Linked DNA regions of Homo sapiens. The protein of the gene in region 1 interacts with the protein of each later gene in a pairwise test. Each region holds a gene or a part of one and is shown in the gene's direction. Other genes may lie near its edges. The genes, in order: MAGEF1, TRAIP and PHF7.

Region 1 (11,495 bases):
AGAATAATCCCAATTTTAAAAAATATATCATACTTATATGGTCCTACTCATCTATATTGGGAAATAGGAAAGACTAGAAAGATACAGTCTAAAATATTAGTAGTGGTTATCTTTAGTTGGTGGGATTTAGGGTTATTTCATTTTAATTATTTTTCCTTTTATCTGTATTTTCTAATGTTAATACAAATTATGTTTTATTTTTATAATTATGAAAATAAAGAGGAAAAAACTTATCTCAAACAAGTCCCAAGGAAAAATGAATAATCCAGGAAAGATATTTGCAACATGACAAAAAATTTCATATCTTTACTATTTAAAGAACTCCTGCAAAAAATAAGAAAAAGAAGAACGGTCCAGGAAAAACTCAAATAAACAACAGGATGAGTGTTAGACACTTATACAATGTATTATTAGAAAGCAGTAAAATGATAATATTGAACACTATTTAATGACAAGGATGGTCATTATCTATTAAGAAAAAGCAGGCTAGAAAATAGTATTGTTTTAATAAAAATATATTTATACCAGACTTACAGACTTTATTCAATGTATCTATTTATGTATAGATATAAACACATGCACACAATTAAATCTGTGAGGGTAGGCACTGAAAGGTATATAGCTATGATTTCTGAATGGTAACATTTCAGGTGTTTAATTTTTTTCTTGCCTTAACTTACATTTTTCAGCAATAAAATGATTACTTGTATAAGAGAAAATATTTATAATATTGCTGTGTGAAAAATTTTGCCACAAATAAGTTCCTCACATTGTATTTAAGAATGAAAAACTGAAAACAAACTAAATCTATAACAATAGGCATTAAAGGTGACATGGCATCCATGGGCAACTTCAGTCACAAATAATTACCTTATAGGAAAATATTAATTAGAGTGAAAGTTTCAAGGTATGTGAAGAAATATATGTTATTCATATACAAAGCCACAGTATACATGCAGTGTACACAAAATGACTCCATTAAAAAATAAAATTGTATGTGCTTAGAAAAATTGGAGGAGGACACCCACCAATGTATTTGTTTACTGTAGTTACCCCTGCATGGTGGAATTATAGGTGTTTTTCTGTTTTTGTTTTTTTCTTTTTGATGGTCAAGATTTTCTCAGTTTTCTACAATAAATAGTATCTTCTAAAAATTAGGAAAAAAAAGCACTAAGTTATTTCGTAATGCTTTAAAAGCAAAGATGATTCAAGAAACAAATTACGAACTACATAAGAACTGGCTCCTCCAGAAAGACCCATATGAGTTAGGGATTTTGACTAATTGAGGTGGGCTATCTCCATCTACTGATGACAAGCAGAAGTCAAGCACGACCTTGGTCCTCAGCTGGGATGCTTATCCCCCCTTCCTCCTTCCCTTGAGTCTCTCTTGACCATAAGGTGTTGGCCACCACACTAGGTAAAACAAAACTGCCCACCAGTGTGTGAAGGCTGGATGCAGCAACAAGGCAGTGGTCCTCAAGAATCGCTGGTCCAGCCACTCACCTTCCAGCAGGTAAGTTAACAGACCTGTTGGGCCAGAAGGTGGTTGGAGGGCAGCATCGTTGATGAAGAGGCCAGGGCACGAAGGTTATCTGCAAAACTTGTTCCTGGCCCAGAACCTCCTTTCACTGCTTCTGCTACAACCTCCTTGGCCATCTTAGTGTTACTGCCGAGTTTGTTAAAAGAAAGGAGCTGCCGGGCTTGGTGGCTCATGCTTCTAATCCCAGCACTTTGGGAGGCTGAGATAGGCAGATCACCTGAGGTCACGAGTTTAAGACCAGCCTGACCAATATGGCGAAACCTCGTCTCTACTAAAAATACAAAAATTAGTTGGGCATGGTGGCACACGCCTGTAGTCCCAGCTACTTGGGAGGCTGAGGCAGGAGAATCACTTGAACCCAGGAGGTGGAGGTTGCAGTGAGCTGAGATGGTGCCATTGCACTCCAGTCTGGGCGACAAGAGTGAAACTCCATCTCCAAACATAATAAAATAAAATAAAGGAGCAGCTACAAGGTGGGTGTCTCTCAGGCAGCCCCCTCCAAAAGTGCCAGGGCAAAGAGGTGAGCTCTGAGACCCAGGCAGCCCCCAGGCCCTTTATGTCTCTGGAGAGTTTATTGCAACAGCCTCCTAACTGGCCTCTTGCCCTCAATCCCCGCCCTGCCCAAACTATCTTCCAGGCCCCTGCCTCCCATCTTGAAATACAGCTATCGATTTTATTCCTGGGATCAAAACAGTTTGTGTAAAATCAGCGCTTCTCAATCTTTACCACTGAAGCGCACCAACAGTAGACAAAAGAAATGCCTTATGCTCCCCCAGGGTGCTGCAGAGCCTGAAGCTCCTGCCAGCACACCCAAACTCTCTTTGAAGTCTCCTGTTTTCTCTTAAAAATTCATGAGAATTTTGCATTCTACTCCATGATATATCTGAATTTCTTTTAATATGAAGATGTTTAAAATTATTCACCTCAAGGAAAACTGATGTTCCCGAAAGAAATACTGTATTTATCTGGAGGCTTCAAGTATCCTCCTTGGAGAATTATCTACAGGATAAAGTCCAAACTCCTGACAAGCAAGGCTCTTTAAAATTTGGCCTTCACAAACCTTTCTGCTTTTCTCCTCCTCCACCTCTGCACACACTCCAGTGTCTGGGCCACCTGGACTCTTGTCATTTCCTGATATGCCAGCTTCTTCCCAGTCCCTGTGTGTGTTTTTGCTTCCTTTGGGACCACACTCCCTGCCTGTTGACAACCCACTATTCCTAAAGGCCTCAAGGGGGATCAAACACCACCTCTCACAGGAAACCTCTGATCGCCCAAGACAGATACGATGTGAGAGATGCCGTGAAAATAGCCTGTGTTTTGGAATCAGAAGGCTGGTGTTCATCCTGTCTCCAACTATTGACAGTGGAAACATTACCTAACTTCTCTCAGATTTCATTTGTAAAATGGGGAATAGTTATGCTTCCCTCAAAGGGCTGTTCTAGGGATTAAATAAGGTTCAAGCAATTTTGCAGTGCCCAGCGTATACTCCCTTCCACCCCTCCAAATTCCCACAACACTTTATTGATACCACTGATGTCAAGAGCAGACATTTACGTAGTCGTTCTTTTTACAACAGCTTATTTCCCCTAACTAGATCAGTGGTTCCCAATGTCCCAAAAAGCTTCTTGTATTACCCCCATGGTCCCACAGCTTGAAAGATTTTGGTTATTAAATCAAACACATTTATGAAATAATAGCCTGCTTTTCTCAGTTCTTGATCCTAGTAAGCTTTCTGAACATTGAGAGCGCTGCCAGCCTTTCCTCTCATACCTAACTCTAGGGACTTGGAGTTGGGAGCCACCCACCAAGATCATAAACGCCTTGAATCTGCAGCCCTGTCTCCACACTTCCCATAGCACCTTACTCAGCGCCTTGTGCTTAAAACACACCTAGTAACTGCTTGTGGCATAAACAAGAAGTTTCACACACATGACAGAGGGAGAAGCCCTCTCCAAATGAGCTGGTTGGTGTGCAGAAAGGGGTCATTGTTAAAGGAGGCAGAGCTGGAGGCGAGCCCTTCTCCCTCCATCCACCCGGAGCAGCACCCCCAATTACACCAGCTGGCCTCCAACTTCTGTGTGTGAGCCGATTAAAAAGCACCCTCTCTTCAGTGTCTGGAAACTCCTGCAAGGAAAGTTTGCTGCCCAAAGTTGGCTTTTGACTAGAGTCTTAATAAGAGGCCTCAGCAGGCTGTGGTTAGAGAGACAATGTCACTTAGAGGAGCAGCTTGAAGCGGCAGTTAGGAGAAGAATTATTTTAATGAATACATTTCCTTTCAATTGTATGGGAATATCAAGATCCCATTAGAATGGGGAAGCAATTAGAACTAATAAAGATGAATGCACAGTGCTCTGTGCGTGCGGAATAACAAGCAGCCCACAAAGGGGCTCCAGAGAGGCCGCTGTAATCCAAGCAAACTGGCGGCCAGCAGAGGGGAAACGGCTCTGTTCAGCCGCTCAAAGCCCCTGCGTCCTGCACATTCTGATCACGGCCTGCGAATGGCGTGAGGTGGGCCTTCGAGGTGGGGGTTGGGCCCCCCGCCCTTGCCCAGCCTCTTGGGGATTGAGATGGGCTGTTGGCAGCCCCTTGGCAACAGCCATTCAGACCAGGGCCCTGGCTCCTGGCCAGGCTCTCGCCCGCCCCTTGCACTGGGCCTCATTGTGTCCAGGTGGCAAATGCCTTCTCGCCAACTCTCCTTCGAGGTTTAGAGAGGGGGTGGGACAGTGGAAGAGGGAGAAGGGGATGAATGAGTAGGGGGCCCTCTGCCCCCTGCCATTCCCCCTCCCCCGCTGGCCAGGGTCTGCTCCTCCTCTGGGTTTGGTGTTATATTACAGACACTGGTGAGTCACTGGCAGCCAAACACAGAAGTACTGTTGCTTACACAATTACTCTTCAAAAAGTAACAAACAATTTTCATTACCCAAGTCAGATCGAATCATTCGCCTGGCCATCCTGCCTCAATCCCAGCCCCATAGACGGGACCCAAAGCCTCACACTCTGCCCATTCTGCTCTGACAAAACCAGCTTCAATTTGTCCCGGCCTAGGGATAGGGACAGAGCTCTTCCTCTGATCCCTGTTTGGAGCCAGATCAGCTGCACGGCTGTCAAGACTGTCAGGAGAAATAGGGAAGACACAAGCACCCACGCAGCCTGGAGACCATCAGATCTGGGGTGACATGTTACTGAGCACCTGTGTGAAGAAGGCATTCAAGAGTTTGGAGGACTCTATTGCCAAGTTTAGAAGGAATCCAACAAGATAACCCTGGCTCTGCACCAAAGTATTCACTGGCCTCAAATGGAGTGTCAGTACTTGACATTTCTTTATTTAATCTTTTTTGGCCAGACAGTTTTTTCAATGAGGAATGTGTAAGCTATTCCGAAATGTCTGTCTAAGAGGCCAGTCACCCTCATTACTGGGATTTTTCCACCATATCTCTTTTAGAAAAGGGTCTGTAACATTTTATATTTATTTCTTAATGGTGGAGCACTTTAAACGCATATTTACATGTATAATCTTGATTGAACTTCAAAATAACTCTGTAAGGATGGGCAAAGCAAGGGTTGTTGGGGCCTAAAGATGAGGAAAAGGTGGCTCAGAGAGGTTCAGCACCCTGTGCAAGGTCACAGAATGGGCGAGTACTGACCTGGTTCAGCACTTTGTCCCAGGAAACCTCCTCCGCGTCTCCACAGAGTGCTGGGCATTTCAGGACAGCTCAGCTGCAATTCTGCTTTTCCAGTGGAACATCCTTCTCTCTTCCACGTATGAAACTTTACGAAGCACTGTGGGCTTTTGAAGACTCTAGTCTAGGCTAAGAAGGATCCTCTCTCAAGAAGATTCCAACCCAATAGTCATTAAAGCATATGTTTCGTCATCTCCCAAACCAAAGGCATATATCTTTTGTCCCTTTTAAAAGTTTAGGTAAGGAATGTGTTAAAAGTCTGCCTGTTGCCGGAAATGGTGGCTCATGCCGGTAATCCCAGCACTTTGGGAGGCCGAGGCAGGCGGATCACGAGGTCAGGAGATCGTGACCATCCTGGCTAACACGGTGAAACCCCATCTCTACTAAAAAAAAAAATACAAAAAATTAGCTGCATGGTGGCAGACGCCTGTAGTCCCAGCTACTCGGGAGGCTGAGGCAGGAGAATGGCGTGAACGTGGGAGACGGAGCTTGCAGTGAGCCGAGATGCGCCACTGCACTCCAGCCTGGGCGACAGAGTGAGACTTCGTCTCAAAAAAAAAAAAAAAAAAAAAAAAAAATTCTGTGTGTCCGGTTACATGGTGGACATAACAAAAAAAAAAATGGGAAAAATTATTGTTTGCATTCCTTCCACTGTAACATGGTAACATCTAGCGATCGGCAAGTGGTAATGCAGAGTCCATTCACCTTTCTTACTCCTCGCCTCCTCCCATACCTAAAGGGCTGTTCATTTTTTAAAATCCTTTTTTATTTTTATAAATTTTGAGGTATGATTCATACACTATGAAATGCATACCTGGCTGGGCATGGTGGCTTACACCTGTAATCCCAGCATTTTGGGAGGCTGAGGCAGGCAGATCACTTGAGGTCAGGAGTTTGAGACCAGCTTGGCCAACATGGTGAAACCCCGTCTCTGTTAAAAATACAAAAATCAGCCAGGTGTGGTGGCAGGTGCCTGTAATCCCAGCTACTTGGAAGGCTGAGGCAAGAGAAGCACTTGAACCTGGAGGCAAGGGTTGCAGTGGCAGGGGTTGCAGTGAGCTGAGATTGTGCCATTGCACCACTCCAGCCTGGGTAACAGAGTGAGACCCTGTCGCAAAGAAAAGAAAAGAAAAGAAAAGAAATGCATAGCTATTAAGCGTACAGTTTCACAAGTTTTGACAAATGTATACCTACATCCAAATCAAGACACAGAACGTTGCCATCACCACTGAAAGTTCCTGGATACCCCTTTCCAGTCAACACCACCCCAGGCCTCCACTGTCCTAATTTCTATCACCATAGATTAGCTTATCCTGCCTCGAACATCAGATAAATGGAATCATATTATACGTATAATCTTTTGTATCTTTCATCTGTCACTCAACATATCTGCCAGACTCATTCACATTGTGTCAGTAGTTTGTTCCTTCTTATGAGTAGTATCGTCATTTATTCAGTTCTTAAAATCCAGCCCTATTACCACAGATTTGTCCCTCAAAATTCTTTTCATTTAATATATCTTCTGCATGCTCCTTTCCGTGCATGTATCTCCTGCATATCTCCCTGGCAATCCTTGTAGTGAGGAAAATATGTAAGTGGACTATTTTATCTCTAGCACTGTCCTTTTAGGTATGGGTGGCTCTCTCTACCTTCAGGAAAAACAGATAACCAGGCAGTCTTGCTTCAGAGTTTACAGATCTGGGTTTTCATTTCTTGTCTAGCACTTAACAGATGGGTGGTTCAGGGCAGGTGATTTAACCTCTCTGTGACTGTTTTCCCATTTGTAAATGTGGATAATAATACCTTCTTAATAGGGATTTGTGAGGACAAAATTATATTGTACATAGAATGTTTGGCACAATGAAAACTAATAATAGCCTCAAGCTAGGCTATAATAAACATCCTCTCCTGCTTCATTCACATACTTCCAGGTTTGTAAGTCATATGATACAAGTGGGTATAAATTTTCAAAAGTTTTTAAAAGGAAGATTTCATATTTAGATTTAGAAAAGTCTATCAGATATTTACTTAAAATAAGTAACTGTTATTTCCTAGGGAAAAAAGTAAAGCCTTCTGTCATTTATTCATTGGCAATTATATATCGAGTATTGACTAAGAGAAGCTCTTCAAAAGAGTTAAAAACATAGCCCTAGCTTTTAGGATGTTTGGTTTGGGGAGGGTAATAAGATAAGCACAACAAATTATAATACAAAATATAGTAAATGATAATAATAATAATTAACATCTATGAATGTAGTGGTTAAGAGCACAGTCTCTGGAGTCATACTATATGGGTTCACATCCCAGCTGTGTGATGTTGGGCAAGTTACTTAACCTCCTTGTGTGTAACCTCACCTGGAAAATGGGGCTAATACCACTTACCTAGCAGGGCTACAGTATCAGAAAAAAGTGGCCCAGGGTGTTTGAGCATCCTGTACAAGGTCACAGAATGGGTGAGTACTGACCCGGTTCAGTGCTATGTCCCAGGACACCTCCTCCGCATCTCCACAGAGTGCTAGGCATTCCAGGACAGTTCATCTTGCAATTCTAATATTGTATATTGCATATAAAAATATGCATTAATTAACAGCTAACATGTATTGAATATCAATATGTGCCAAGCACTGTGTTAAATGCTTATGTGCATTACTTCACATAATCTCCACAATGCTGTTACTACTATTATACTCATTTTACTGATAAGGTAACAGAAGGGCAGAAGTTTAGGTAACTTGCCCAAGATTACATAGCTAGTAAGTAGCAAACTGTGTCACAGAAAAGATACAATCATCTATAAAATGGGGATGATGGTATTAGTACCTACATTAGTGAGAATCTGATGAATTAATATTTGAAAAGTGATTAGAACGGAGCCTGGCACCTAATAAAGCCTATATATGTGGATGTTAACAATTGCTAAGGTGATTCAGAGATGACAGTAAATAACTTCTATGCGTGGTGACTAAGGAAGGCTTGGGAAGGTGATGTTTAAACTGGGCCCTGAATAGTGGACAGGATTTGGAGAAATGGAGGTGATAGAGAGGGCATTTCTGACAGGGAAGGAAGGGAGGGAGGGAGGGAAGAAGGAAGGAAGGAAGGAAGGAAAGAAGGAAGGAAGGAAGGAAGGAAAGAAGGAAGGAAGGAAGGCAGGAAGGGAAGGAGGGAAGGGAGGGAGGAAGGAAGGAAGGAGGGAAGGAAAGAAGGAAGGAAGGAGCAAGAAGCAGAAGAAAGCTCAGAGTGTGTAAAAAGAGAAAAAGAAAAGAAATACATGGGAGTAGTCAAATTTGACTTGCGCAAAAAAAAAAAAAAAAAAGAACAAACTTCCCCTTTCTTCCAACCAGTCCCTATTCCTGCTGTACTTCTCAGTATTTTCCTCTTATCCCCATGGAATCTGCTGTCCTTACTCCCTCATCATAATGATCCATTGAATATTTATTGAGTTCCTCTCCGTGTCAGGCACTGCTCTAGGCACCGAGGATACAACCCAGTAAATAGGCCGGGTCCCAGTTCCTAGTTTGCACTATAATAATCCTCCAAACTGGATTCTAGCTTTTAGCCGGCCGAACTCCAATCTATCTTCCACAATACCGCCAGAACCGAAGACACAGATCTGGTCTGGACACTCACTTGCTTAAATCCCGCTGCAGTATTTTCTCTTTACGTCCAGAATAAATTTCAGTCTCCCTAGCATCCTTTACTAATTGGTTCGCACAGTCTTACCTCGCAGCCTTCACCGTGCACTCTGCACAAGAGCCCCGGTAAAGCACTGAAAATCCCAGATACACACACTCACAAATAGGCACTTGCAGAAAGAACGTGGGGGGCACTCCATCCCTATTTCATCTCTTGTACACCGAAACATTCCCCAGTCTGCATGCCTTGGATGGGAGAGTCCTGGTTACATTCCCCCGCCCCCGACTTTTCAAGCCTAAAATCCGTCACAGGGCGCACCCCCGTCCCCACCCTCCAGGGCATTTCCACTTATAGCAGCCTGGGCACACCCCCAACCCAGAAGGGACCGGAAAAGGAGGGGCTGCGCGCGGCACTAGGGTCGCCGTCCTGGCTGAGGTGGCCGGAAGTGGCCCCTCGCGCGGGCGCGGACTGAGGCTGCGCGCCGCAGGTTCCGGCTGCTGGCGGCGTTGCGGCCGCAGGTTTGACTCCCGTGCGGTGCGGCCCAGCAGCCACAAAGCTCCCGCTGCCATTGCTCCTTGTACTCCCGCCGTCACTGCCGCTGTCCAACCCCTCCCCCGGGGCTTGCGCGGCGGCTCCCACACCCCTCGGCCCGTGTACGCGCTCTGCACCTGCCTGCCCGAAAACATGTTGCAGACACCAGAGAGCAGGGGGCTCCCGGTCCCGCAGGCCGAGGGGGAGAAGGATGGCGGCCATGATGGTGAGACCCGGGCCCCGACCGCCTCGCAGGAGCGCCCCAAGGAGGAGCTTGGCGCCGGGAGGGAGGAGGGGGCTGCGGAGCCCGCCCTCACCCGGAAAGGCGCGAGGGCCTTGGCGGCCAAAGCCTTGGCAAGGCGCAGGGCCTACCGCCGGCTGAATCGGACGGTGGCGGAGTTGGTGCAGTTCCTCCTGGTGAAAGACAAGAAGAAGAGTCCCATCACACGCTCGGAGATGGTGAAATACGTTATTGGAGACTTGAAGATTCTGTTCCCGGACATCATCGCAAGGGCCGCAGAGCATCTGCGGTATGTCTTTGGTTTTGAGCTGAAACAGTTTGACCGCAAGCACCACACTTACATCCTGATCAACAAACTAAAACCTCTGGAGGAGGAGGAGGAGGAGGATCTGGGAGGAGATGGCCCCAGATTGGGTCTGTTAATGATGATCCTGGGCCTTATCTATATGAGAGGTAATAGCGCCAGGGAGGCCCAGGTCTGGGAGATGCTGCGTCGGTTGGGGGTGCAACCCTCAAAGTATCATTTCCTCTTTGGGTATCCGAAGAGGCTTATTATGGAAGATTTTGTGCAGCAGCGATATCTCAGTTACAGGCGGGTGCCTCACACCAATCCACCAGAATATGAATTCTCTTGGGGTCCCCGAAGCAACCTGGAAATCAGCAAGATGGAAGTCCTGGGGTTCGTGGCCAAACTGCATAAGAAGGAACCGCAGCACTGGCCAGTGCAGTACCGTGAGGCCCTAGCAGACGAGGCCGACAGGGCCAGAGCCAAGGCCAGAGCTGAAGCCAGTATGAGGGCCAGGGCCAGTGCTAGGGCCGGCATCCACCTCTGGTGAGGGTTGGTGAAAAGTTGGCCAGTGGGTCCCCGTGAGGACGAACTACTGTCCTGAGTCATAAGTAATATGGGTGGGGCGAGGGTCTTATTTCTGTAGAAATCGTGTGACTTTAAGGATTTAGATTTTGTATCTTATGTTTTGTAACATTTAATAATTACTGTTAAAATGCTGTTTGTAAATGAGATTGGTCTACTTTTTCCTGTAGGATTTTATTGTAGAGTTTTGCTGGTTTTGTAAAATGGATGGAAGAACTTTGTATTTATACTGTGATTTTGAACAGATTATGCAACATTGGAAGGAAGGCTGTACTTTGATGGTTTGAAGGAACTCAGCAGTATGATGATCTGGTTCCAGGGGAAAAAAATAGCTGGTTGGTGTCTAGCCCCCCAACACTTTTGTCTGTTGTGTATAAAAGAAGAAAGACTGGCATGTACCTTCATTTGCTTAGCTATTTGAGTATCTAGAGAAAAATTAAAATGCAATGAGTTAGCAGTATACCCTGGCACACTTAATAAATTAAACATTTGTGGAGCATCTTGTTTTCTGTGATGCACTGTGTGGGCACTTGGGGATAGAATACTAAACAAGATAAAGGTCCTACTTTTTTTCAGAATTGAAGAGTAAGTAAATAAACAAGAAATTAGCAGTGCAATGAGTTGAAGTCTACAAAGGGATACTTAACCCAGCTGGGATGATTGAGTGAGGTTTGCTGTAATCCCAGCACTTTGGGAGGCCGAGGCGGACTGATCACCGGAGTCAGGAGTTCAAGACCAGCCTGGCCAACATGGTGAAACCCTGTTTCTACTAAAATTACAAAAATTAACCAGGCGTGGTGGCACACACCTGTAATCCCAGCTACTTGGGAGGCCAAGGCACAAGAATCTCTTGAATCTAGGAGACGGAGGTTGCAGTGAGCCGAGATCATACCACTGCACTCCAGCTTGGGAGACAGAGCAAGACCCCGTCTCAGAAAAAAATAAGAAATAAAAATAATGATTTCAGATCACAGCTACTCCTCAGTAATGTGAGCAGAC
Region 2 (9,306 bases), about 130 Mb from region 1:
TTTATCCATGTAGCATGTATTAGAATTTTCTTCCTTTTTAGGGCTGAATCAGTAATCATATTTAATTTTTTTTTGAGACAGGGTCTTGCTCTGTTGCCCAGGCTGGAGTGCAGTGGCACGATCTCGGCTCACTGCAACCTCCACCCCCTGGGTTCAAGGGATCCTCCCACCTCAGCCTTCCAAGTAGCTGAGATTACAGGCATGTGCCACAATGCCCAGTTAATTTATTTAATTTTATTTTTTGTAGAGATAGAGTCTTAATATGTTGCCCAGGTCAGTATTGAACTCCTGGCCTCAAGCCATCCTCCCACCTCAGCCTCCCAAATTGTTGGTATTACAGGCGTGAGCTACTGTGCCTGGCAGTATTCATGTTTTAAATTTGCAAGCATTCTTTCTTGCTCTTTGAGTATGTCTGTTTTGCAAAGCATCATGTTCTTGTTTTATGGTCTCATATTTCTGTTTGTCTCAGAGTCAGTATTTGTGCACCATGGACTTTTTCCTGGGCTCCCCTCCCATACCTGGTGGTCCTTGGCTACTTTGGAGGCCAACCTATGTGGGTAGGGTTTGGGGGGGATGTGCAGACTGCTGGCATCATGTTGAGTCTTACCTGAACCCAGGATGCAGAAGGCTTTACTGTTGGGTCCAATAATATTGGCTGCCCTAGGTCATTGTACATAGTTTGTTTAGTGTCTTTGAGAAAAGCTCTTCTATTTATTGGCCCAGGGCAGCAGCCTAACTGCCTAGTGTTCTACCAATGCAGATTAGGATGGGGTGGAGCCAAGCTCACAATTTCATCAGTGTTCCAGTTTTCAGGCCTGTTTAATGCTTTTGCAAGGCCCTCCCTTTCCTTCATGGACCCCCTCCTTGTGGGTTCTGGCTGCTGTGTCAGTCTCTTGTCCCCTGGCCATGCTTTGTCTCCCAGAATTTTTTGGAAATCTCTGGGGGCTGATGGTGGTTGCCCCTTCTACTTGTTGCAGTAGGATTACCCTTCATACCTGTCATTTTAGGGAGGCATCAGCATGTAGCCACCACCCCCAACTACAGAGTCAATGTTAGGAAGATCTCTCTCATGGGCCCCAAGGGCCCCTGAACTCCAGGCTAGAGACAGCCAGGGAGACCTTTCCTTAGGGTAGGGTAAGGCCGCCAGGAGCCATGAGTTCATGGAGGAGATGTTGACTAATCCCATGCCACGCAGGCAATGGGCTGCTCAAGGCCTTAGCTCTGTTCTGGAAAGGGGAGCTTTGAGTGTCTTGCCTGGCTCCCTGAGGCCTCTGGCATGAAGCCCTGTAACTTGACCATGGGTGGGTGTCCCAAGGGTGATAGTGTCACTCAGGAGGGCCTCAAGCCAGCCTCAACCAGTGAGGGAAGGACTACTAAGCCCTAGGTTCTTTCTCCTTGTAGGACAAACAGAAAGTGGGAAGGAAAGAAAGTGGACCCCTGGCAGAAAGGGAAATAGGCTTCAAGCTCATGAAGGAAGAAGAATATAGAAACAGTCTAAGACAAGGCCGGGCGCGGTGGCTCATGCCTGTAATACCAGCACTTTGGGAGGCCGAGGTGGGCAGATCACGAGGTCAGGAGAGCGAGACCATCCTGGCTAACACGGTGTAACCCCATCTCTACTAAAAATACAAAAAATTAGCTGGGCGTGGTGGCGGGCGCCTGTAGCCCCAGCTACTCAGGAGGCTGAGGCAGGAGAATGGCTTGAACCCGGAAGGCGGAGCTTGCAGTGAGCCGAGATCGCACCACTGCACTCCAGCCTGGGTGACAGAGCAAGATTCCGTCTCAAAAAAAAAAAAAAGAAACAGTCTAAGAGAGGAAGAAATGTGTCCATATGATCCAGATGTGGATATGGGGAGTGAGGGAGGCACCGTGAGAACCTCCTGAGTCTTGAGTTTAGTGTTGTGGATGACCAGGAGGTGCAAGTGAATAAGCCTGGCTTGCCTTGAGCTTGGGCACCACTAGGCAACGCCTTAGGGGATGGCTGGGAGTAGAAAGTCCTGCCTTGAGCCACCTGGAGGGTAAAATTTACAGGACCCAGCGAGATCCTGCCTTCCTCTTGAGTTTACCTTTCCTAACCTGAGCCTCAACTTGCTGGGGTTGGTAAATGGTGGCAGAATATGGATACTGCAAAAAAGTTGGCATGAGTGGTCCTGGCTGCTGTGGTTCCCAGAGGAGGAAGCAAAGCAGCCAGCCTAGAGTTGGTTTGAGGTGGGTTTGTGCAGTCTTCATTTTAACTTGCAGGCGGGGACAGAGGTAGAGCTTCTAGGGTCCTGGACAGGGAAAGGAAGAAATAGTCCAGGCTGCCTGGATTGCTTAGCCACCCAAATCAATGCAGGTAGGCTTCCTCCCTCTGATGTGTACACCCCAGTGGAAGTGGGATTGTGGTGCAGCTCTGAAAAGTTCCTGAGGAAGGAAAGAGAGAAGGCATCTTTGGAGCTACCCTTGCCATTCCCCAGGGTTCTCCTTGTATGACAGGAGGTGGGGAGCCCTGCCAGGTCTGGGTGGGCTGGAAGAATCCTGTCGGCTGTAGTTTTAATAGAATAAAACTTCACTCCCCACCCCCCACCCCCCCCCCCCCCCCGTGTTATAAAAGTAAAAACACACTCATTGAGAATTTGGAAAATAGGGAGTTATCATAGAGGTACTTATGGTTGACATGTGGAATATTTCCTTCTCCTTTTTCTGCATGTGGGAGTGGTGGGGGGGTGCCAAATCATGTAATTGCACTATACATGGAGTTTTGTGTGCTTTTTAAATTAAATTAAATTTAAACTTTTTTTTTTTTTTTTCCTGAGACGGAGTCTTGCTCTGTCGCCCAGGCTGGAGTGCAGTGGCGCGATCTCGGCTCACCGCAAGCTCTGCCTCCCGAGTTCAAGCAATTCTCCTGCCTCAGCCTCCCGAGTAGCTGGGACTACAGACACAAGCCACCACACCCAGCTAATTTTTGTATTTTTAGTAGGATGGGGTTTCACCATGTTAGCCCGGGTGGTCTTGATCTCTTGACCGCTTGATCCACCCGCCTTGGCCTCCCAAAGTGCTGGGATTACAGGCGTGAGCCACTGTGCCTGGCCGAGAGTAGGGCTCTCTTGAGGGGTGGCCTTGAGTCAGGAGTGGGCTCCAGGTCCCTGGAGCTGAGTTATCTCTGATGCTTCAGGAGCTGTTGTCCTGGGTTACCACTGTGGCCCCAAGTAACCAGGTCATCTCTGCCTTCAGCCCAGCCCCTGTGGAGGTGAATCTGAAGCTCCGCCGGCCATCCTTCCGTGATGATATTGATCTCAATGCTACCTTTGATGTGGATACTCCCCCAGCCCGGCCCTCCAGCTCCCAGCATGGTTACTACGAAAAACTTTGCCTAGAGAAGTCACAGTGAGTGATAGTCGCTGGCACTGTCCATGGGCTGGTAGGGGGATAGCTAAGACAGCTCTGCAGGCCCTGTGCTGTTAGCTCTGAGTGGCTGATGGGGCAGTGAGGGTTGCCTAGGCTTGGCCATGGCTTTGGTTCCAGCTACCTCTTGTTCCCTCACCTGAGCACTCAATCTGTGCAAACCCCTTCTCTTTTCTCATTATTCCTCACCATCACCTTTCAAGGCAAACGTATTGGAATGCAAGTTAGAGAGAATGCAGTGATGCCAGAAGGGGTGGGTCTGGGCTGGAGAGGGTGCTCCCAATACCTTGAAGGCCTGCCCACCAGAGTCCTGAGCGAGGGACTCTGAACTTCCTCTTCTATGTTTGCCTCTGAGGCTCATGCCTGAGGGAGGATCATCTCAAACCACAGAGCCCAAGGCCTTACCACCCAAGGGGGTGACCCACAGGGGCAAGCATGAGAAGCTGTCTGGAATTCCAGTGGGGCAGGTGGAACCTGCTCTGGGGTACGGTGGGACCAGAAAAAGGGAGGCTGTCTCCTTGGCCAGCTTTGCCAAGTGTAATTCACTGTGGAGACAAGGACTATACTCATTCATACAGGTACTGTTCAGGTGAGGCTGGTCAAGGGCTGGGCAGGTTTCCTCTTTTTCAAAGACTTTGTACAGAGAGAAAGAAGAGAAAGAGAAAGAAACTGAGATGCTAGACAGTGGAGGTGGAAGGGAGCAAGAGGGCAAGCCAGCTGGGCTGTCCTACCTCCCAAACCTCAGGGGGCATGGGCACCCCTGTTGTAGAGGGCGAGGCCTGGTAGCAATGAGAAACAAACCTAGGACCCGTGGGCTGTAGTCCTCAGGGATCCTGTCAGTGTCTGCTGTGTACTCTGGCTTCCTCCCATTGCCCTTCTTCCGCTGTAAAGGTTGAAGGTGGACACCTGGGGTCTTCAGGCTGCCAGGCCTTTCAGAGACATTTCCACCACCTTCATGGCCTGTGGAGGTAGTGAAGGAGGTAGTGAAGTTCTGAGTCCCTAACTCAGCTCGTCCTTCCTGGAGCCTTGGTTGTCATGTAGCCTTACCACAGGCCGTTAGGGCAGGAGCAGAGGAGTCAGTCATCAGGCCCTGATCCCACTCTTGTCCTTATGGCTTGAGAAGCCACAGGGCCAGCCTTAGATCACCATCTTCTCACCCACCAGGGAAAATGCCAGGAGAGGGTATCCAGCTGCTGGGTTCCCCAGGAATTGGATGGAAATACAGTTTCTGGCTCTGGGGCTGGGATTGGGAGACCAGGGCCTGGGGCCATGCGCTATTCTGCCCCAGGCCCTTCTTAGACACACTCTCTAGGGAGATGGCTTGGCCCTGTGTTCTGAGAGGATTTTGTGGGCTACTTTACTGAAAGGCTAACTTACTGAGGCTCTCGTGGAGGTAGTGTCCCCTCTCTGGGAAGACAGGACTAGGCCTGAGCTCATTAAATTTCTTTTGCTCGTATCAGGGCATGACTGGCTTTCCTCCCGTGGGTGGTGAGTTGATTGGGCTCTTCAGCCCCATATAGAGCCTGGGACATGGTGAGGTGCCCGAGGACTTGAGGAGCGTTGGAATTTGGCCTTGAGTGGAAGCCACAGGATTGGGACATGGTCCAGTCATCCCCAGTCATCCCTGTCTCTGCCACCCTACTGGCTGTGGCTGTCCAGCTGTTAACAGACCTGCACTTGGGGTGGGATCACTGAGGTGCCTTGCCCAGAATGCAGGCATGGCAGCAGCAGTGCCACATGGTAACTCCCCAAGGGGCGTGTGCTGAGCCTGGTTCACCTGCCCCCATGTCTTGCTTACCTACCCCTTGCCTTCTCTCTCATTCTTGTAGCTCCCCAATTCAGGATGTCCCCAAGAAGATATGCAAAGGCCCCAGGAAGGTAAGAGCTTTCTAGAAGAAGCACAGTCTAACCTTTGGCAGGACTGGACTTTTGGGAGGGCACGGTCTTGCCAGAGCCTTGTCACTCCTGGTCCAGGACTGAGGTACTTCGGAGCCACCCTTGGGATTCTACTCATTATCCCTCCTGCCTCCTAGTGAGGCATCAGAGATCCTGATCTTGTTCCACCACCACTACCCTCCCTCCTTTGCTGACATCCAGCTCATCAAGTCTGGCCCTGGGGTCTTCCCTGCAGGAGTCCCAGCTCTCACTGGGTGGCCAGAGCTGTGCAGGAGAGCCAGATGAGGAACTGGTTGGTGCCTTCCCTATTTTTGTCCGGAATGCCATCCTAGGCCAGAAACAGCCCAAGAGGCCCAGGTCAGAGTCCTCTTGCAGCAAAGATGTGGTGAGTGTGGCTTCCCACAGTGGCAGGAGCCAGCCCTCTTGGGTAGAAATGGGTGGCCAGCCCCCCAGCCCATTAGCCTGGCCCACTCATCTCTTCCTTCCACCCTAGGTAAGGACAGGCTTCGATGGGCTCGGTGGCCGGACAAAATTCATCCAGCCTGTATCCTTTTCCTGTGATGTTGAGCTGAGCTGAACTGTGGAGCCCATACTATGCCTCACCTATACCCCCAGCCTGCCAGTGCCAACAGCCTCAGGTGTGCAGTGCTGGGCCTCATTCTGTGTATCAGCGCCGCCCACCCCCGGCTCTGAGCCTTTCTTGCCCTGCATTGCAGTCCTTTCTCGCCCTGCATTGCAGTCCTTTCTCCATGCCTCTTCCTTGACAGCTCCTCCAGACTGACACAGTCATGATCCGCCCATTGCCTGTTAAGCCCAAGACCAAGGTTAAGCAGAGGGTGAGGGTGAAGACAGTGCCTTCTCTCTTCCAGGCCAAGCTGGACACCTTCCTGTGGTCGTGAGAACAGTGAGTCTGACCAATGGCCAGACACATGCCTGCAACTTGTAGGTCAAGGACTGTCCAGGCAGGGGTTTTGTGGACAGAGCCCCACTTTCGGGACCAGCCTGAGGTGTAAGGGCAGACAAACAGGTGAGGGTGAGTGTGGCACCCAGAGACTGCTCTTCCTGCCCTCACCCTGCCCCACTCCTACGACTGGGAGCTGACATGACCAGCCCACTGATCCTGTCAGCAGGTCCTGCTCCTGTTGCCAGGCTCCTGTTTATAGCCATGATCAGATGTGGTCAGACTCTTTCTGGGCCTGGAGACCACGGTCACTTGTTGACTGTCTCTGTGGACCAGAGTGCTTGAGGCATCTCAGGCAGCCTCAGCCCAAGCTTCTACCTGCCTTTGACTTGCTTCTAGGCATAGCCTGGGCCAAGCAGGGTGGGGAATGGAGGATAGCATGGGATGTATGGAGAGGATGGAAGATTTTCATGTAAAATAAAATTAAAAAAAAAAAACAATCTCTTCTTCCTGGTTCTGAGAGTGTAAATTTGCACCAACACTTTAGAAAACTGTTTGGCATGACTTTCTAAAGCAGGAACATCGCCAAGCCTCAGATCCAGCAGTTCCTTCCCTAGGCATATGCCTTCTCATGGGGCACAGGAAGACTCTAGAAAGAATGAGATCACTGCAGCTTTTCTCACAGTCTCTAACCTGGGCACAGCCTAAAGGCCATAAGTAGGAAAGTGAACGAGTAAATGGAAATCTATCTATACAGTGTACTCACAGCAAATAACCAGCGACCACTACCTTCCGTTCCTACCCACGTTTAAACGCTACCAGCCAAATTGCTAGCTTTTGACTTTTGGCTGCAAAGGCACTTTCTTTCTTTTCTTTCTTTTTCTTTCTTTCTTTTTTTTTTTTTTCTTTTTGCAACAGGGTCTCCCTCTGTCTCCCAGGCTGGAGTGCAGTGGCACAATCACAGTTCACTGCAGCCTCAACCTCCCAGGCTCAGGTGATCCTCCCACCTCAGCCTCCTGAGTAGCTGGGACTGCAGGTACATGCCACCACGCCTGGCTAATTTTTTTATTTTTATTTTTTGTAGAGACAAGGTCCTGCTATGTTGCCCAGGCTGGTCTCAAACTCCTGAGCTCAAGCGATCCTCCTGCCTTGGCCTCCCAAAGTGCTGGAATTATAGGTGTGAGCCACCACGCGCAGCCAACGGCACTTTCTTCTAAAGTGCTTCCCTTCTTGACCCCCAGCCTGGGTGAAGTCCCCTAAATTTCCCTCTCCCACTATTAGGTAGGAGTTCACCTGTTTTTCCAGGACCCAGCATGGGCCTGGCACGGGGAGTAAGAGGCACAGGGAGTGAGTGAGTGCTGCAGTGGAGGTTGCCCAGCTGATCTCTAGCATATCTGGAGGAGTATGGGGCTTTGTGGCAAGGAGGTGCCATTCTTGGTTATGAGTTTTGGCCCCTCTGCAGCTGACTTGAGCCAAGGAAGTTTAGTGATGCAAAGCGAAGCATCAGGTTAAGAGTGTAGGGGCTGGCTGCTAGCACCATCCTTACCAGCTGAGTGATCTTAGGTAAATTACCTGGCCTCTCTGTGCTCAGCTTCTTTTTTTTTTTTTTGAGACATAGTCTCAGTCTGTTACCCAGGCTGGAGTGCAGTGGCATGATCTCAGCTCACTGCAACCTCCACTTCCTGGGTTCAAGTGATTCTCCTGCCTCAGTCTCCTGAGTAGCTGGGACTACAGGCACGTGCCACCGTGCCCAGCTAATTTTTGTATTTGTAGTAGAGATGGGGTTTCACCATGTTGGCCAGGCTGATCTCGAACTCCTGACCTCAGGTGATCCACCCACCTTGGCCTCCCAAAGTGGTGGGATTACAGGCATGAGCCACCGTGCCTGGCCCCTGTGCTCAGCTTCTTTATCTGTAAAGTGGGGATCTGGGCCAGGCATGGTGGCTCACACCCATAATCCCAGCACTTTGGGAGGCCAAGGCAGGTAGATTGCTTGAGCCCAGGAGTTCAAGACCAGCCTGGCCAACGTGGTGAAACCCCATCTCTCCAAAAATTCAAAAATTAGCTGGGCATGGTGGTGTGCACCTGTAGTCCCAGCTACTTGGGAGGCTGAGATGGGAAGGTCACATGACCCTAGGAGGCAAAGGTTGCAGTGAGCCGAGATCATTCCACTGCACTCCAGCCTGGGCGACAGAGCAAGACTCCCAAAAATAAAAATAAAGTGGGGATCTGTGTTGCGTATAGGTTAAGAACTTATGGCAGCTAGGTGAAATAAGCCAGACACAAAAAGACAACTATTGTATGATTCCACGTACATGAGGTGTCTAGAACAGGCAAGTTCACAGAGACAGAATAGAAGTTAGCATGGGATAGAGGGAGGGGGCAGGGGAATTATTGCTTGATGGTCACAGAGTTTCTGTCTAGGGTGATGCAAAAGTTTTGGAAATAGATAGGTGTGATGATTACCAAAAAATGAACTTGTGACCTGAATACATGGATATCTTGTGTTCATGGATTGGAAGACTTTAAAGATGGCAATAACCCCCAAAGCATTCTACAATTCAATACAATCCCTATCAAAATTCCAATGGCCTTTTTTTTTTTTTGCAGAAATTTGAAAACTGATTCTCAAATTTATATGGAATTGCAAGAGGCTCTGAATAGCCAAAACATTTTTTAAAATTGTTTTAAAGAAAAGATAAAAGTTGTTCCCAATTTAAAAACTTAACTACAAAGCTATAGTAATCAAAAGAGTGTGGAGCGAAGGCATGCATAATGGTGGAATTGGAAGCTCTAGGGGTTGGTTCCTGAATCAAAGCAACCATTGAGCTGAAAAGAGCAGTGATTGTAATCAACTGTTTCAGAACCCGGAAATTTAACAAGGGGGTTGCTTGATGAAGAGAGTAGTGTGAATCAAGCAGCTACTTCTCCCATTCCTCAGCCCCATCCGGCTGTGGGGATAGCAGCACCAGTTCTGAAAGCAGCTGACTGGTGCCAGAACAGGCACGGGAACCTTGCCCTCCAAAAATGCTGGGGTTGTGCGCTTTGACGGACCTGGAGGTACTCTGAGATGCTTGCCTTGGTTTCATTCAGCCTCTTAGATGCAATTCCTGCATTAATACCCC
Region 3 (9,641 bases), about 130 Mb from region 1:
ATAGTTTAAAGTCCCTGAAGATATTCCCGATCTCCAGCCGTGATCGGAGGCCATGGATACTGGAGTGTCTCTGGAGTGACCTGATTCACCCAGCCCTCCTTCTAAGAAATGCTGTCCTTCTCCTCTCCCCTGACTAGACAGTCCTTGCTTCACAGCGGTGGATTTTCTTTCGTTCCCGTTCACTTTCAGGGATCTCCCCGTTAACCAGTGAAACTGTACATTTGTTTTACAGTTTGTTTACTAATGAAAACAGGTAACAGCCGGAGTTGGCTGACATTGGAAATAGGAGACAAGGTACCTTCTGCACTTTTGGCTATTGTACTCGGCTCAGATGGAGACAAAGGTTGGGTACAGACCATATCTCAGTGGCCACCTGAGCCTAGGTGAAAAGAATTGATAGGAGAGGTCAGGCCTGGTGGCTCACGCCTGTAATCCCAGCACTTTGGGAGGCTGAGGCGGGAGGATCACTGGAGCCCAGGAGTTGAAGACCAGTCTGGGCAACATGGCAAAACCCTGTCTCTACAAAAAATTAGCTGGTGCGGTGGCATGGCACCTGTGGTCCCAGCTACTTGGGAGGCTGAGTCAGGAAGATCATCTGAGCCTAGGAAAGTGGCACTTTCATGCACTCACCCACTGCACTCCAGCCTGGGCAACAATGAGAGACCCTGTCTGAAAAAAAAAAAAAGTGATAGAGCCTAGGGGGTGTTTGTCAGTGTTACCTCTTGTCTCTCACTAGAGGGAGTTCTTGCTTTTAGGCAGCCCAAATCTCACAGGCTCCTTTGCTTAGGAAAAAGCTACCTTATCTAGCTTTCACTGGGTAGAATTAAGGCACCCATACTTAGGTGCAAAAGGAGCCTTTTTTTCCTGAGTGCTACTTCACGTATTTTTTTGTAGGCACAAAGAAACAACCATTTAGCTAGGTCAAGTAATGGTTCTAAGTTCTTTTGCTACTGTGTGATAGCAGTATAACATGAGAGTTAGTGTTGGCCTCTGGAGCCAGGCTACTTGAGTTCAGATCCCATCTATATCACTTACTAACTCTTACCTTGGGCAGGATACTTAAACCTCTCTGTGCCTCAGTCCCCCATCTTGAAAATGGGGATAATAATGGTACCTACTGCATGGCGTGTTTGTGAGTTAACACATGTCAAGTACCTAGAACAGTCCCTTTTATTCCATCACATGGGTTGGGAGGTGAAGTGCACCATTGCCTTGACCCTGGGGAACTTGATAACCAAATACAGAATTAAATTGCTTACCAAACCCCATTTATATTTATAGCTGGAAGAGCCTGTATTGTCCTCACAATAGTATAGAAGAATTCAAGAGAGGAGAGAGAGACAGCACCGAATGAAGACTGTAAAAGAAAAGAAGGAATGCCAGAGATTGAGGTAGAAGTAGTTGACATAGGGAATTTGGGAGAAATTGTCCAATGGCCTGTGGTATAGGCTGCACTTTTTGCCCCCTTTGTCGTAGTCTTGGGGGTTGAGGTTGGACAGTGTGGAAGCACACACGGAGCTGGGAGCTGTCATACCTGTCTTACCAGTGCTGTCCCTAGTAGCAAAGTGCTGACTCTGGAACCTTACTACCCAAATTCATATCCTAGCTCTGCCACTTGCCAATAACTGTGACAGAAGGCACTACATTTCTTTATGCCTCAGTTTCCTCATCTGGAAAATGTACATAATAATGGCATGTACTTTTTAGAGTGTTCTGTAGATTCATTGAGCTACTGTAGATTAATTGAGCCAATACATGTAAAGTGCCAAGAATAGTGCCTCGCAACAGGAAATACTTTTATCAATTTTGGTTCATTTCAGTATGCTTTGTAAAGGTGGTACCACCTGAGATTCAGAGTAGTTGGCAGAAGAAGCAGTAAAAAAGTAAAAGAGGGTTTGCTCTTGCATTCATTCAGTCAACATAGGCAGTACAGGCACTGGGGAGAGAAAGATGCTTACAATCCGGTTCCTGCCCTCAAATAACTCAGTGAGTATGTTTTGCACTTAAAAAAAATATGAAATATGGCCAGGTGCAGTGGCTCATGCCTGTAATGTCAGCACTTTGGGAGGCCGAGGCGGGTGGATCACCTGAGGTCAGGAGTTCAAGACCAGCCTGGCCAACATGGTGAAACCCCGTCTCTACTAAAAATATAGAAATTAGCTGGGCGTGGTGACAGGCGCCTGTAATCCCAGCTCCTCGGGAGGCTGAGGCAGGAGAATTGCTTGAACCCAGGAGGCAGAGGTTGCAGTAAGCTGAGATCGCACCACTGCCCTCCAGCCTGGGCAACAGAGCAAGACTCTGTCTCAAAAACATATATATGTGAAATATGAAAAGAAGCTGATGTCTTAGGCTTTAGATATGTTGGTCCTTCATCAGACCCATGAATGGCATTTTAAGAGAAATGTTAAAAAGGTTATCAACAAGATCCCCAAAGAACACCTTGTGCTTCTTATTTCTCTTGTATAGAAAATCTGCCAAGACTAGGAGGGTAACCCAGAGGAAACCGTCTTCAGGGCCTGGTAAGAAAGACTGGAGCTTGTGTTCGCCCACTGCCTCCAGCCCTCAGCAAAGAAGGCCACCTGTGTGGGGCAGTATACTTGCTTCTTCTCTCTCTCCCAGCCCTACTTCCTTCCTAGATTCTCTAAGATCTTGAGGACTCAGGAACTGCCATTTTAAATTACCATGTCTGAAGTTCAAGAAACAAGTTATTAAAGTCACTTTAGAACAAAACAAAACCAAAAAAAAATGAAGTGAGCAGTTGTGGCCAACTTTTTCATTGTAACCAGAATTATGTGACAGACTAATTGATACCACATAAGACCTCATCCCAACCTTCCTCCTTGCCAAAATGACCCTTTTCCTAGTATTCTACTCCTTCCTGACTTAGAGGAATGGTTACATTCTCACCCTTCTCTTCCATTCTTAATGGTCAATTTGAGCCAAATTCTGGGTGTCCTCTCTTCCAGTTTGCTGGCTATGCCTTCGAGAACCTGGGGATCCCGAAAAATTAGGGGAATTTCTTCAGAAAGACAATATCAGCGTGCATTATTTCTGTCTTGTGAGTATGAGGCCTCCTTTGCTTTGAATATCCTATGGCTTTTGGTGTACTGACTGTTCTCTGTTACATTCATCCTCATATCCACAGCCTTGTTTTTTTATTTTTCTTAATAGCTTTTTTGTTTTAAAATCTATTTTTAGGCTGGGTGCAGTGGCTCACGCCTGTAATCCCAGCACTCTGGGAGGCCGAGGCAGGAGGATCTCTTGAACCCAGGAGTTCAAGACCAGCCTGGGCAACCTTGTCTCTACAAAAAAATTAAAAAAAAAAAAAAAAAAGCTGGGTATAGTGACAAATGCCACTCCGGAGGCTAAGGCAAGAGGATCGCTTGAACCCTGGAGGTGGAGGCTGCAGTGAGCAGTGATCACACCACCACACTCCAGCCTGGGTGACAGAGGAAGACCTTGCCTCAAAAAAAGAAAAATATATGTGTCTGGTATAAAATCTTGACAGTATAAAGTAAGTTCAGTAAAAAAGTCTCTTCCCTAAACAATGTTCCCAATCCTTCTCCCTCTCCCCAGAAACAAATGCTGTCAAAGTTGTAACATCCTTCCAATTGCTTTTTCCCAGTATTTTTTTATTAGGTATAACTTTCATACTGTAAAAATCACCAATTTTTTTCTTTTTTTGAGAACGGAGTCTCACTCTCTTGCCCAGGCTAGAGTGCAGTGGCGTGATCCCGGCTCACTGCAACCTCTGCCTCCCTGGTTCAAGTGATTCTCCTGCCTCAGCCTCCCAAGTAGCTGGGATTACAGACACCTACCACCATGCCTGGCTAATTTTGTATTTTTAGTAGAGACAGGTTTCACCGTGTTAGCCAGGCTGGTCTTGAACAAAATTCACTAATTTTAAGGGTCCAGTTTGATAAGTTTTGATAAATGTATGTCCCCAAATAACCACCACCCCAATCAAAATAGGTAATATTTTCATCACCCCAGAAAGTTCCCTCCTGCCTCCTTTTCCAGTCAATCCCACTAGACGTAATCACTGTTCTGATCTATGGATTATTTTTGGCTATTCTTTTACTTCATATAAGTGAAATCATATAGTTTATAATCTTCTGTATCTGGCTTTTTTCTCCCAACACAGTGTTTTGGAGATTCATCCATGTTGTTGCATGCATTCATAGCTTGTGCCTTTTTATTACTTGGTAGTATTCGGTTGCATGAATAAGTTACTATTTGCTTATCTGTTCACCTGTTGATGAACATCTGAATTGTTTCCATTTGAGGACTATTATGAATAAAGCTACTTTAAGCATTCATGTACAAGTCTCTTTGTGAACATGTGCTTTCACTTCTCTTGTGCAGATGCCTAGAAGTGGAATTACTAGTTGTATGCTAATTAGATATTTAACTTTATGTGAGGTTGCCACATCACTGTCCAAAGCGGTTGTACCAGCTTACACTCCTACCAGCAATTTATAAGAAGTCCAGTTGCACAGTATTCTTGCCGGAACTTTGTTTTGTCAGTGTTCTTAATTTTAGCCATTCTACTGGGTGTGTATTGGTATTTCATTGTCGTTTTAATTTCCATTTTTCTGATGACTAAAGCTTCTTTTCATGTGCATATTGGCCATTCACATATTTTCTTTGGTTTTTTGGTTTTTTTTTTTTTTTGAGATGGAGTCTCGCTCTGTCGCCCAGGCTGGAGTGCAGTGGTATGATCTTGGCTCACTGCAGCCTCCACCTCCCGGGTTGGAGCAATTCTCCTGCATCAGCCTCCCAAGTAGCTGGGACTACAGGTGCCTGTCACCACGCATGGCTAATTTTTATATTTTTAGTAGAGACAGGGTTTCACCGTGTTAGCCAGGATGGTCTCGATCTCTTGACCTCGTGATCTGCCCACCTCGGCCTCCCAAAGTGCTGGGATTACAGGCGTGAGCCACCGCGCCTGGCCCGGCCCACATATTTTCGTTTGTTAAGTATCTGTACAAATATTTTTACCCATTTAAAAACACTGAGTGGTGGTCGGGCACAGTGGCTCACGCCTGTAATCCCAGAACTTTGGGAGGCCGAGGCGAGCAGATCAAGAGGTCAGGAGATGGAGACCATCCTGGCTAACACGGTGAAACCCTGTGTCTACTAAAAATAAAAAAATTAGCCGGGCATGGTGGCAGGCGCCTGTAGTCCCAGCTACTCGGGAGGCTGAGGCAGGAGAATGGCGTGAACCCAGGAAGTGGAGCTTGCAGTGAGCCGAGATCACGCCACTGCACTCCAGCCTGGGCGACAGTGCAAGACTCCGTCTCAAAAAAAAAAAAAAAAAATTGAGTGGTTTTATTATTGAGTTGTAGGAATTGCTTATATATTTCAGATACAAATTCTTTTTCAAATATATGTATTGAGACTATTTTCTTCCTAGTCTTTGGCTTGCCTTTTCATTTTCTTAATGGTGTCTTTCAAAGAACAAGTTTGTAATTGTAATGGAGCCCAGTTTATCCATTTTTTTCTTTTATGGTCAGTGCTTTTTGTGTGTTGCAAGAAATCTTTACCTACCCATAGAATTGCCTTGGTGCCTTTGTCAAAATCAATTGACCATATATCTGTGGATCTGGATAATCTATTTATGTCATTGATCTATGTATCTATTCTTACACAAGTCCCCACTGTCTTGATTATTGTGGCTTTATAGTATATTGAAATTCAGTATTGTTAAGTTCTACAATCTTTTCCAAGATTGTTTTGACTATCAGGTCCTTTCTTTATAAAGTTTATATTAAGCTTGTCAATTTTTCTTTAAAAAAAAAGTCTACTGGGATTGTGATTGGGATTGCATTGAATTTATAGGTCAATTTGGGAAGAATTGACAAAAAATATTGAACCTTCCAATCCATGGACATGGTATATTTTTCCACTTATTTGGGTCTTTTAAAATATATCTCAGCAATGTTTTGTTGTTTTGGTGACAAAGTCTTGTACATCTTTTGTTAAATGTATTCCTAAATATTCTGTGGTTATGCTATTGTAAATAGTATTTTTATTTCATTTTTAAGTTTATTGCTGGTATATAGAAATGCATTTTATTTTTGTATATTGATTTGTATCCTGTAATCTTGTTAAATTGAGTTTGATTAGTTGTTTTTTTATTTTGTTGTAAATGCCTTGTTACAGGATTCCCTATGCACATAACCATGTCATGTGTGAATAAAGACAGTTCTACTTCTTTCTCTCAATCTTTGCCTTTTATTTCTTCTTGCCTTGTTGTATTGGCTAGGACCTTTAACCTAACATTGAATAGAAGTGGTGTGAGTTGTTATCCTTGTCTTGTTCCCAACATCAGGGGACAGCATCTAGTTTTTCACTATTAAAGTATGTTAGCTCTAGGTTTTTTTCATAGATGTTTTTATCAGGTTGAAGATCCCTTTTATTCATATATAGTTTGCCCAGAGTATCATGAATGGGTGTTGAATTTTCTCACTTTTCCTGTATTTATTGAGATTATCTTGATTTTTCTCTTTAATTTTGTTAATGTAGTTTGTTACATCAACTAAATGCTCTAATGTTAAACTAGTCTTGCATTCTTGGTATAAACTCTACTTGGTCATGATGTATTGTCCTTTTTATATGGTGCTGGATTCAGTTTGCATCTGTTTTGATTTTTATATCTGTGCTCATGAGAAAGATTGGTCTGTGATTTTCCTTTCTTGTAAGTCCTATCAGGTGTCAGGGCTTAGTTATAATTTTGATGTATTTACAAGCATATACATTTTTTACATAAAAATTAAACATTATACAGAGTGCTTTGTATCTTGGCTTTTTTCCATCATATATATTTTGGAAATCTTTCTGTATAGAACATATAGATATAGTTTTTTCTTTTTAGTAGCTAATTTATTAAATCAATACATGCTTATTGCAGAAAACATGAATGATACTTAAAAATATGAAGAAAACAAATCACTCATCCCAAAGCCCTGAGATAATTAGTTTTAAAATATGTGTTTCAAAAGTTCAATTCCTTCCCCCATAATACAGAACAACAACAATCAAGAGATATTAAAACCCTGTTTTTCTTCCTGTATTACTCTGAGAAGAGTATTTTCTCTGTACTAAGAGGTGATGCAGCAGGAAGGGTAAGAATGGGGATTCCATGGGCCTGGGTGTGAATAGCCAGCTCTGCTCCTCCTTGTCCTATAACCCTGGGAGGCAGTGTCACTTGCCACACTGCACCTCAGCGGCCTCCTCTGTAAGATGAGCATCATAATAGCATCTGCCATTACAGGAATTTTTTTTTTTTTTTTTGAGACGGAGTCTTGCTCTGTCGCCCAGGCTAGAGTGCAGTGGCCTGATCTTGGCTCACTTCAACCTCCGCCTCCCGGGTTCAAGCGATTCTCCTGCCTCAGCCTCCCGAGTAGCTGGGATTACAGGCGCGCACCACCATGCCCTAGTTTTTGTATTTTTAGTAGAGACAGGGTTTCACCATGTTGGCCAGGCTGGTCTCGAACTCCTGACCTCAGATGGTCAGCCCTCCTCGGCTTCCCAAAGTGCTAGGATTACAGGTGTGAGCCACCGTGCCTGGCCAAGGATTGTAAGCATAAAATGAGTAAATACAAAGGAAATGTTTCCCCCAAAGTCCCAGCACACAATAGCAGCCCTCAGTAAGTGAGAGGCAGCCTAGAGCAAAAGTAAGAGTCCAGGTTCCAGAGTTCTGTGGCCTTGAGCAGGTCGCATCATCTCTCCTATAAAATGAGGACAATAATAGTACCTACCTCCTAGGGCTGTTGGGAGGACTCAATGAGTTAATATTTGAAACCACTTAGAGTATTCAACACATGGTTGGTGCCATGTAAGCCTTCATTAAATAAATTACCCTGTCAATGCATATATATTCCACCAAGCTCTGTTCTTTTTTTTTTTCTTTTTTGAGACAGAGTCTTGTTCTGTGGCCCAGGCTGGAGTGCAGTGGCACGATCTCGGCTCACTGCAAGCTCCACCCTCTCGGGTTCACGCCATTCTCCTGCCTCAGCCTCCTGAGTAGCTGGGACTACAGGTGCGTGCCACCACACCCGGCTAATTTTTTTGTATTTTTAGTAGAGATGGGGTTTCACCGTGTTAGCCAGGATGGTCTCCATCTCCTGACCTCGTGATCCGCCCGCCTCGGCCTCCCAAAGTGCCGGGATTACAGGCATGAGCCACCACACCCGGCCCAAGCTCTATTCTTTAGCTCTCTTACCCTGTCCTTCTCCTCACCTCACTGCACTGTTTCACTGATCATCATTGTTAACAGCCTGGTTCTACTGCCCCCGCAGATCTTATCTAGTAAGCTGCCTCAGAGGGGCCAGTCCAACAGAGGCTTCCATGGATTTCTGCCTGAAGACATCAAAAAGGAGGCAGCCCGGGCTTCTAGGAAGGTTAGAATCTCTTGAAATGAGGACCTTGGGGTAGGCCTCTTTTCATACCTCACCCATCATTCCTGTTTCTGTTCTCTTCCCTACTTCCTAGTTTAGATGTCAAAGGACTCTTGGATTTTCCAACTAGTCCTTAAGTCCCATATTCCTCTGGGGTATGGGTGTCCTAAGTGAGAAGAGGGAGAAACATCTTGAGAAAATAGGAAAGAACTCAGTGCTGCTTGAAGCTCAGCTTCCGGGTGCCCCAGAGCATTCAGGACCACTGAAGATAGGGAATGGCTATTATTTCACAAAACTTCCATTTAATAGAAAGATGTGCTACACTGTGTGTGTTTGCATTTCTTGGGGTCCTGAGCACTGTCTGGGAACTCATTTGCAGATCTGCTTTGTGTGCAAGAAAAAGGGAGCTGCTATCAACTGCCAGAAGGATCAGTGCCTCAGAAACTTCCATCTGCCTTGTGGCCAAGAAAGGGGTTGCCTTTCACAATTTTTTGGAGAGTACAAGTGAGTGAGGGAAGGGAAAAGTCTGGCTTCCTTTTTGCAACTTATTATTCAGCCACTAATGAAATCAGAGTCCAGTTCTCACAAGCAGGCCTGTTTTGATTCACCAGTGAATCTGTCCCTCCATTCAGTAATAAGAAACAGTGTCTTGACTTGGAGATTTCACAGGGGGTTCTTCTTGCTTCCTGACCCCTCCTTAAATTACAAACAGCTGGGGTTCTTAGACAGCTGCTCAGCACTAAGTGGGGCTTTCAGGAACGAGAGGCTATGGAGACAGTCCTGGGAACTTTGCTCAGTAGGTGAGCAGCCGTGAGAAGGCATGTGGCAGTTCTTCACTCTGCCTCTCCTCTTCCCCATGTGTGGAGGTTCACTGGGCACCAGCCTGGGTGGCTGGCTGCCCCTCCTAGAGCGGGCCATTGGGAAACTACATCAATGACAAACCAGAAACCAAGTCTGTTTACCTGCCACAGATCATTTTGTGACAAACATCGCCCAACACAGAACATCCAACATGGGCATGTGGGGGAGGAAAGCTGCATCTTATGTTGTGAAGACTTATCCCAACAGAGTGTTGAGAACATCCAGAGCCCGTGTTGTAGTCAAGCCATCTACCACCGCAAGTGCATACAGGTGGGGCTTTTTCCGCCCTGGGTCCCTTCCACCATTGCCCTAGTTCTCTGCCTGGAACCAGAGAACCCTGGGAATGCTCAGGTGTGCCTCAGCTTTGGTGCTCCATGC

The links.
Region 2: the proteins of MAGEF1 (region 1) and TRAIP interact in a two-hybrid assay, tested with the Homo sapiens proteins (one study listed by BioGRID).
Region 3: the proteins of MAGEF1 (region 1) and PHF7 interact in a two-hybrid assay, tested with the Homo sapiens proteins (one study listed by BioGRID).

Annotation. Positions count from the first base shown.
Region 1 is NC_000003.12:184,709,864-184,721,358, reverse strand, and holds MAGEF1 (melanoma-associated antigen F1), read left to right. Parts: upstream 1-9,294; 5' UTR 9,295-9,537; coding exon 9,538-10,461; 3' UTR 10,462-10,995; downstream 10,996-11,495. UniProt on the Homo sapiens protein: Enhances ubiquitin ligase activity of RING-type zinc finger-containing E3 ubiquitin ligases. Proposed to act through recruitment and/or stabilization of the E2 ubiquitin-conjugating enzyme at the E3:substrate complex.
Region 2 is NC_000003.12:49,825,976-49,835,281, reverse strand, and holds the end of TRAIP (E3 ubiquitin-protein ligase TRAIP), read left to right. Parts: intron 1-2,241; exon of another isoform or gene 2,242-2,335; intron 2,336-3,213; coding exon 3,214-3,366; intron 3,367-5,213; coding exon 5,214-5,262; intron 5,263-5,515; coding exon 5,516-5,665; intron 5,666-5,773; coding exon 5,774-5,824; intron 5,825-6,056; coding exon 6,057-6,179; 3' UTR 6,180-6,681; downstream 6,682-9,306. UniProt on the Homo sapiens protein: E3 ubiquitin ligase required to protect genome stability in response to replication stress.
Region 3 is NC_000003.12:52,411,530-52,421,170, forward strand, and holds part of PHF7 (E3 ubiquitin-protein ligase PHF7), read left to right. Parts: exon of another isoform or gene 1-294; intron 295-1,281; 5' UTR 1,282-1,350; coding exon 1,351-1,391; intron 1,392-2,466; coding exon 2,467-2,519; intron 2,520-2,966; coding exon 2,967-3,058; intron 3,059-8,303; coding exon 8,304-8,405; intron 8,406-8,781; coding exon 8,782-8,906; intron 8,907-9,373; coding exon 9,374-9,533; intron 9,534-9,641.